Regions from separate parts of the Homo sapiens genome. Here region 2 is linked to region 1. Evidence: fine-mapped expression QTL. A gene starts in region 1. The other region holds a variant in brackets. All regions are shown on one strand. Distances are from middle to middle.

Region 1 (4,393 bases):
TGTTATTACATTATTTTATTTCAGGGCCAGAAGGAGAGCTAGGTGGAGGGAAGGGTCATTCACTTGGTCAGACAATCTACTAGATGAAAACAAACAAGCAAACAATCTGCTAGACTGCCCCAAATAGATCCATTTAAGCAGGGGAGAATCTGAAAACAGGCAATTACAATTCCATGTTAAGTACTATGGTAGAGTATTGCACAAGGTGTTTTGCAACTTTATCGGAAGAATCAATAACTCACAGACGCAGCAAAAGTTTTGCAGAGGTGGTAGCTCTTTCTTTCAAATCAGTCTATGTTTCCAGGAAGTAGAAAATACTGCTTGCTGGAGGCAGACAGAATGCAAGTGAGCCCAGTCTGTGCTCCTCACCTAAGGGCCTTGCTACTGATCTGCAGCCCCTCCTGCTCCTCAAGGCCTCTCTCAACTCCCACACAGCCCTGCTAGCCAGCCTTGCCCTAGAATACCCCCTCCTGGGCCACCTGGTGGTGAACATCCTGGACTCTGTGCTGTGGCTTGATGCGGCTGAGTCATAAGACCTTTCTTTTTACTGCTAAGCGCTAATGGAAGCCTTCTGGTCAGAAGCAATGCCCCAAGTCTACCTTGTGGGGAAGGTCTAATGACGACAGATCACTGCTTCTCCCCGCAGGGCTGGATGAGCATGGATGTGGTGGCGAGGTGGGGGAGAAGCACCCACGGGAGCATCTTCATTTCTTCCTATATAGGCGCCAGTTCTGGGCAGGCAAGACTTCCCAGGGGTGGACAGAAAGAACAGACCCTCCCCAACCCGCAATTCCCAGGGGGAGACATCTCCCTCCCAAGCCAGCCTCCAATGCCGCACTTTGCCATCTGGTCGTGGCCCAAACCAGCCTCCTAGCTCGCTAGTGACCACATTTTCCAAACCAAAACTCAGGACGCATGATCTGGCAAAGAATTTCTGGCTAGCTTCCAAATGCAAGAGGCAAAAACCTTTCCACCTGAGAATCTCTACGATAATCTGCGTCGTTAAAGGTGACATTAAGTCGGAAAGCTTGAAATTCAGGGTCTCTTCTTTCTCACTTTCTCAACTCAAGCGTTTTCTTTTTCTTTCTTTTTTTTTTTTGAGACGGAGTCTCACTCTGTCGCCCAGGTTGGAGTGCAGTGGCACGATCTCGGCTCACTGCAAACTCCGCCTCCCGGGTTCAAGTGAGTCTCCTGCCTCAACCTCCCGAGTAGCTGGGATTACGGCCCTCCTTCCGGGCGGGCGCCACCATGCCCAGCTAATTTTTGTATTTTTAGCAGACACAGGGTTTCACTATGTTGGCCAGGCTGGTCTCGAACTCCTGACCTTGTGATCTGCCCTCCTCGGCCTCCCAAAGTACTGGGATTACAGGTATGAGCCACCGCGCCTGGCCCTTCTCAAGCGTTTTCATACGTTGTTATCGATACGTGAAAGAGCCCATGAGGTAGCTGATTATTATTTCCATTTAATAGTTGATAATACTTGGAATCACTTGCCCAAGATCCTACATCCTGAAAGTCTGAATTTTGGCTTGTCAGGGACAGTTCTTAGGGTGGGTGTGTGTCTTGTGGGCAGAGCTGGGGGTGGCGTATTAATATCTTCGACGAAGATGCACACGCCATTCATTTGGGGCCTCAGGAAGGGCAGCCGAGAACTGAGCTGGCCAGGTTCCCACTTCTGAGTTGGAAATCCCCAAGCCCAGGACGTGGCGGCCACCCCGTCCCATCAGGATCTGACCCGAGGCCTTAGGGCCAAGTAGCGAGAAAGAACCCTTCGACCTTGCAGGTCACACCTCGGCTGCAGGCCCTCGACCCAGCCCAGGTGCGGATGGGCGGGGCGCAGCGTGGGCGAGCGACTCCCCAGGCCACGTTCTGCCTTCCCTCCCCGATCACATGGACTCGCCTTCCGTAGCCGGGAGTGCGGAGCGGAACGAACCACGAGGAGGAGGAGCGGGGGAGGCGCCCAGGGCAGTGGGTCAGCGCCCCGCGGGGCAGGTGGGCGGGCCCAACTGCCCGCGAGCCGGCCAGCCAGCCAGTCAGCGAACGCGGAGGGCGGGCCGGTGGCCCTGCGCGCCGCGCCCCGCAGCGCCCCCTGAGGGGCGGCGGCGGGAGCTGGTTCCGGCTGCGCGCGCAGCGGTGGTGGTGGCGGCGCGATCGGCCGGGCTGTAACCGTCGTCTGTCCGGGAGCGGCTGGAGCGGCAGCGGCGGCCGGGCACGGCGCGAGGTGACGCCACAGGGCAGCGGCGGCAGCGGAGGCAGCGGCGGCAGCAGGAGACGCAGCGGCGGCCGCAGCAGCAGCAGCAAGACGGACTCGTGGAGACGCGCCGCCGCCGCCGCCGCCGGGCCGGGCCGGGTGTCGCGCGCCGAGGCTGGGGGGGAGTCGTCGCCGCCGCCGCCACCGCTACCGCCGCCGCCGCCGCCGCCGAGGTGACTGAGGAGAGAGGCGCCTCCTCGCTCCCGCCACCGCCGGACTTCAATGCCCAGTCCCCAGCTCGCCAGCGTGAGTGCGCCCCTCCCGGGCGGCCCCCGCGCCGGCGCCGGGGGCCTCGGGGAAGGGGAGGGCGGGAGGCGCCGCAGCCATTAGTGCAGGCCGGAGACACGTCCCCGGAAGGAGGGCCGGGCCGGGCCGGGGCGGGGGAGCGAGGGTGGGTGAGCGAGGGGCGGGCTCGTGTGTGTGGAAGGGAGAGAGCTGTGCGAGCGTGGGGGAGAGTGAGTTGGTGAAGGGAGGGCGTGTGAGTGGGGGACAGGGCTGAGTGTCCGTGCGAGGAGGTGGGGGGAGTGGGAGCGCGTCGGGAGGCAGTGTCGATGTTGGGGGAATGTGGGTGAGGGCAGGGGAGGGTATGGGTGTGTGGGGAGCGTGTGGGCATGAGGGGTGGTGGTAGAATGAGTGAGTAAATGGGGGAGGAGAGAGTTGAGAGTGTGGTAAAGAGCGGGTGAGTGTGGGGGGAGAACATGGTGTGTGTCGGTGAGAAGGTGCGTGGCAGAGGCAGGAGTGTGGTAGGGTGTGCCGGCGTGTGTCCAGTGTGTGAGCAGGCATCCTAGAGGCCCTTCCCCTTGGTCTTTGTGTGTGGCGATAGTGAACCCTGGTGTGTTGGGTTGGGGAGTTCTTTCCGGGAGCATCTTGTCCGTGGGTCTTCAGGTTCAAGTATGAGGAAAGGGGGTATAAGTCTCCTCCAGCGGCACTATGATCTTCTGGCTCTGGGATTTTAATTTTTTTCCCCCAGAAAGGATGTGATGTGTTTTTTTGTTGTTGTTCTATACATTTTTTTCTCCCACGTTTCATGACTTCAAAGTAAATTTTCAAATTTGTCAATGATGCCATCCTATCCTAGTCTGGGGCCCCTGAGAGCTAACGAAAAGAAGTTTGTCTGTTGCCCAAAATCCTACACTCTGGCCTGTAGAGTGTTCAGGAGCATAAACTTTTGTAAAGTACTGCTAGTTTTTCAGGTGAAGAGTATTTTATTGTTAGGTAAATTGAACTGTAGTCTGGTTTATTATTTCCTGGAATTTGTCAAGAAATTAGCAGTGACTAGCAATTCTAGTGTCACTGTAGGCATTCAGCAAATGTTTGTCTGTCCGGAGTCGCCAAACTACATTACACTGCTGAGTTGGAATATGGTACTTGCTGTCATGCTCTGTAAGAGAGAGTAGTTTCAGAGGGAAGTGAGTGAAGTTATGCCTTGCTGAGTGTGCAAAAGGAGATTAAGGATACAGAATGACACATTATCAGGGCTTCAGAATCACTTGCCAGCACACCATTGTATTGGTGAAGATGGTGAGAAGTTGTTTGCTGGTATTCTGATCTTGGCATTTTTAAGTTTCATAATGAATGGACTAATTATTATCATGGACTTTTCCCATTCTTGTGTTGTAAAAGTAGGGATTCTTGAAGAGTAGTACCTTGATAGGGATTTTACACATTGATATAATCTTAAAAATGATGTTATCTTAAAAATAATGTCTCCTAGAAGTTGGTAGTCTTTCACTTGATCTTAGCCAAAAGGCCGAGAAGCGATAGAAGTTGGTAGTCTTTCAGTATAAGCAAAGAGTAGTATGGTCCTTTTGTTTTTTTTTTGTTTGTTTTTGAGATGGAGTCTCGCTCTGTTTGTTGCCCAGGCTTCCCGGGTTCAAATGATCTTCCCGCCTCAGCCTCCCAAGTAGCTGAGAATACAAGTGTGTGCCACCACACCCGGCTAATTTTCATATTTTTAGTAGAGATGGGGTTTCACCTTGTTGGCCAGGCTGGTCTCGAACTCCTGACCTCCAGTGATCCACCTGCCTTGGCCTCCCAAAGTGCTGGGATTAACAGGCGTGAGGGTGGTCCTTTTGATAGTGAACATAATAGAATTACAGGCAAAATCACTGATGTGTAATTAAAAGTTAGAAATTATATTTT
Region 2 (4,370 bases), 33 kb after region 1:
TAAGCCTCCCATTTTGTTAGCGTCAGCTAGGCCAATAGGAACAGACCGGGACCTTGTCTCACACTGATGATACCTCACATGTTGACCGGCTATGTGAACTGCCTATTTCCTATGCTGGAGTTTTGATTTTTAACTAAACGCAAATCTGTAGATTCTCTCCTCTCCCATCCCAGAAAACAAAACAAAATAATGCTTTTCGAAATTGTTTCTAGGACTTTAAAACATAATGGTATATCCAAAATTCTTTATTTCAGAATGCAACAATAGATTCCATTAATATAGACTCAAGATCAAAACAGCATACCTGCTAAGCTAAGATAGATGGTGTTGATTCCACTGGGTTTTGATCAATACAATAACAAACCTTTTTCCTTTGACATACTCTGAATTTTGTTGTTTGGGGGGAGGGGGTGTGTGTGTGTGTGTGTGTGTGTGTGTGTGTATGTGTGTGTGTGTGTGTGCACGCGCAGTGTCCATCAGTATCAGTGCCTGCCTGAGTTAGGAAAATTACATTCCTGGTTCTGTATTGAGGAGAAGGATGTATAAAGCAACATGAAACATTAGCCCTCCTTTTATTTTAAAGACTAATGTTAATTGTTCTTAAAACTGGATTTTTTTTCCTTAAAGCAATTTTTTTCTTTTCGATTTAATGAAGTATTGCTAGCTGAAGCCAGTTTGACATAGAGAGATGTCAGATTGATTTGAAAGGTGTGCAGCCTGATTTAAAACCAAACCCTGAACCCTTTTAAAGAACAATAAAACATATTTTACACGCTCTTTGTGCATTTTTTTCCTCCATCCTCAAGAGTTTATGTCTGTGCTTATAAAGCGGAGTTTAAGCTGGGTGCAGTGGCTCATGCCTATAATCCCAGCACTTCGGAAGGCCAAGGCAGGCGGATCACTTGAGCCCCAGGAGTTCAAGACCAGCCTGGGTAATGTGTTGAGTCCATCTCTACAAAAAAAAAATGTTTAATAATTAGCTGGGCATGGTGGTGTGTGCTTGCAGTCTCAGCTACTTGGGAGGCTGAGGTGAGAGGAACACTTGAGCCCAAGAGGTTGAGGCTGTAGTGAGCTGTGATCATGCCACTATACTCCAGCCTTGGTGACAGACACCCTGTCCCAAAACAACAACAACAAAACCAAAATTTCACTTACATCTGTTCCCCTTTCTTTGCCTGCTATTTTCAAGGACTGTTTTGGGTCCTGCTAGTTTACTGCAAGGAGGTAAAATAGAGGCTTGGAAATTCAAAGATTTTATGTCACTGAGGTGTTCAGGAAGAGCCAACTTAACCATAGCTGGGATACATCTAGTACATTTTCTGGTTCAGTTCTTGTATACAACCCTGTAGGAATTCAGCATCTTGTCAAAGGCTTGGTTTATACCATAGATTATTATTTTTTAGAGACAGAGTCGTGTAGTGCTTCCCAGGCTGGAGTGCAGTGGCTATTCACAGAGTCAATAATCGCATATACTATGGCCATTCTGAGTAGTCTCTCACTGCACCCAGCTTATTTATACCATAGGTTTTGGTGAAGCATTGCAACTTTGTACTTGAATTCGTATTAAAGAACAATGAGGAAGTAACAGCTCTGTATTAATATATCAGGATTTGGGAGTGTGGAATTTCCCTTTCACTATGGGTAAGCATCCATCCACCCAGGTAACAACATGCTCAGATACTAGGAAAAGATACGACACTCATTTCACTTTGGAGTACCTCAGTCTGGAGGGGGTGTCAGATATGTAGACATAAAACAGTTACAGTGGGTGGTTATAGTACTATTTATAGATCATTGATCCACAGCCTGGGCAACATGGCCAAACCCCAACTTGACAAAAAATACAAAAAGTAACTGGGTGTCGTGGCGCACTACCATCTGGACTACAGTCCCAGCTACTCGGGAGGCTGAAGTGAGAGGATTGCTTGAACATGGGAGGCTGAGGTTGCAGTGACCTGATACTGTGCCACTGCACTTCATCCTGGGTGACAGCGAGACGAGTCTCAGAATTCATTGATCCTGCCACTTCTCTTCACCTCTTTTCACTTCTTCATGTCCTTCATTACCTAGCTTAGGTTCTGTGATGCACTGTGACAATCAGCTTTTCAGCCTTGCCCCATCTCTTGTTGCATTGTACTTCCCTGGCTAAAATCCATTTTTGGTTAAGTTCAGTACTCCACTTTCTGTGCACTTAAGTACTTACACAACTGAACATGCTGATTCAGTCTCTCTAAGGTCATGACCTCCCCGGGCCAGGTGGTAC[G/A]CGCCTATTAAGTCTCAGTTACTCAGGAGGCTGAGGCAAGAGAATCACTTGAGCCCAGGAGTTTTGAGGCTACATTGTGAAATGATTGTGCCCGTGAACAGCCACTGCACTCCATCCTGGGCAACATAGTGAGACCCTGTCTTGAAAACTAAAGCTATGACCTCACATGAGCCTCAAAACCTCTCAATCCTAGTACATTTCTCTATCCCATTTACACTTTCTCTTAAATTTTTAACACCTTTGCCATCCTCTCAGCTTATGACTTTTTAAAACTTAGAAATAAAATTTTCACAAGCTCCTCCCATCACATCTACTCACCCACCTGCATCTGTGCTACTGTCTTTTAGTTACTATAGGCAGACTGTCCTTGCCCAATTTTTTTTTTTTTTTTTTTGAGACTGAGTCTTGCTCTGTCACCCAGGCTGGAGTACAGTGGCGCAATCTCAGCTCACTGCAACTTCCGCCTCCCGGGAGCAAGCGATTCTCCTGCCTCAGCATCCTGAGTAGCAGGGATTACAGGCACATGCCACCAAGCCCAGCTAAATTTTGTATTTTTAGTAGAGACGGGGTTTCACCATATTGGTCAGGCTGGTCTCAAACTCCTGACCTCATGATCTGCCTACCTTGGCCTCCCAAAGTGCTGGGATTACAGGCATGAGCCACTGCCCGGCCTGTCCTTGCCCTATTTAAGGCAAGCTCTTCCACTTGTGTGCTAAATTCCATCCCTTAACCTGTTCAAAGGGCCCAGAGGTGTAGCCATTTTCCTTCTCTGTCCTGCTCATTAACTTTTCCCCCTACTAGATCATTCCCATGAGCTTATAAACATGCTAGTATTCCATATTTTAAAAAAATCCTTGTTTGACCCCGCATCTGCCCCTTCAGCTGTCATCCCGCTTCTTTGCTCTTCTCTAGTACAAGTTGAGAATTATCTATCTATGCTCTCTACTTCTCTCCTTTGAGCTTGCACCAATGAGGATTTTGACTCCACAGAACAGCCCGTGTTAAAGATCGCCAGAGGCTGGGTGCAGTGGCTCATGCCTGCACTTTGGGAGGCCAAGGCAGACAGATCACATGAGGCCAGGAGTTCAAGACCAGCCTCCCAACATGGTGAAACCCCGTCTCTACTGAAAATACAAAATTAGCTGGATGTGGTGGCACACGCCTGTAATCCCAGCTACTCTGGGTGGCTGAGGCACGAGAATCGCTTGAACCTGGGAGGCAGAGGTTGCAGTGAGCCAAAATTATGCTTCTGTGCTCCTACCTGGTCAACAGAGTAAGACTGTCTAAAAAAAAAAAAAAAAAAAAAAAAAAAAGGATCACCCCGATCGATGGTCAATTCTCATAACTTTTTTTTGAGGGTCTTGTTTTGTCACCCAGGCTGGAGTGTAGTGGCATGATCATAGCTCACCGTAACCTTGAACTCGGGCTCAAACGATCCTACCTCAGCCTCCTGAGTAGCTAGGACTACACGTGCATGTCACTGTGCCCAGCTAATTAAAATTTTTTGGTTGGGTGTGGTGGCTCACATCTGTAATCCCAGCACTTCGGGAGGCCGAGGCGGGCGGATCACCTGAGGCCAGGGGTTCGAGACCAGCCTGGCCAACATGGCGAAACCCCGTCTCTTCTAAAAATACAAAATTAGCCAGGCAGGGTGATGCATGCCTGTAGTCCCAGCTACTCGGGAGGCTGAGGCAGGAGAATCGTGCCATTGCACTCCAGCCTGGGTGACGAGCGAAACTCTGTCTCAAAAAAAAAAATTTTTTTTTTTTTTTTTTTTTGGAGAGACATAGTCTTCATAGCCTTTATTTATTTATTTATTTAGGACATGGAGTCTTGCTCTGTGGCCCAGGCTGGAGTGCAGTGGCGCGATCTCGGCTCACTGCAATCTCTACCTCCTGGGTTTAAGCAATTCTCCTGCCTCAGCCTCCCAAGTAGCTGGGACTACAGGCACGTGCCACCACGCCCAGCTAATTTTTGTATTTTTAGTAGAGATGGAGTTTCACCATGTTGGCCAGGCTGGTCTTGAACTCCTGACCTCAAGTGATCCCTCCACTTCGGCCTCCCAAAGTGCTGGGATTACAGGCGTGAGCTACCGTGCCTGGCCAAA

The links. PIP is the estimated chance that this variant, and not a neighbour inherited with it, causes the effect.
Region 2: its variant is the best candidate, but not a certain one, in a credible set for the expression of PTP4A2 in whole blood (INTERVAL, PIP 0.51).

The regions. Positions count from the first base shown.
Region 1 is chr1:31,936,091-31,940,483 of GRCh38, reverse strand. It overlaps PTP4A2 (protein tyrosine phosphatase 4A2), which reads left to right and starts at 2,116. Exons shown (of 6, transcript NM_080391.4): 1 at 2,116-2,497. RefSeq lists enhancers at 1,530-1,799, 2,910-2,959 and silencers at 1,860-2,239, 2,442-2,613, 2,390-2,729.
Region 2 is chr1:31,902,828-31,907,197 of GRCh38, reverse strand. It overlaps PTP4A2 (protein tyrosine phosphatase 4A2), which reads left to right. Exons shown (of 6, transcript NM_080391.4): 6 at 1-777. Among named protein-coding and RNA genes, the nearest start is that of PTP4A2, 33 kb to the left of the region's middle. The variant G/A (reference allele first, on the strand shown) is at 2,264.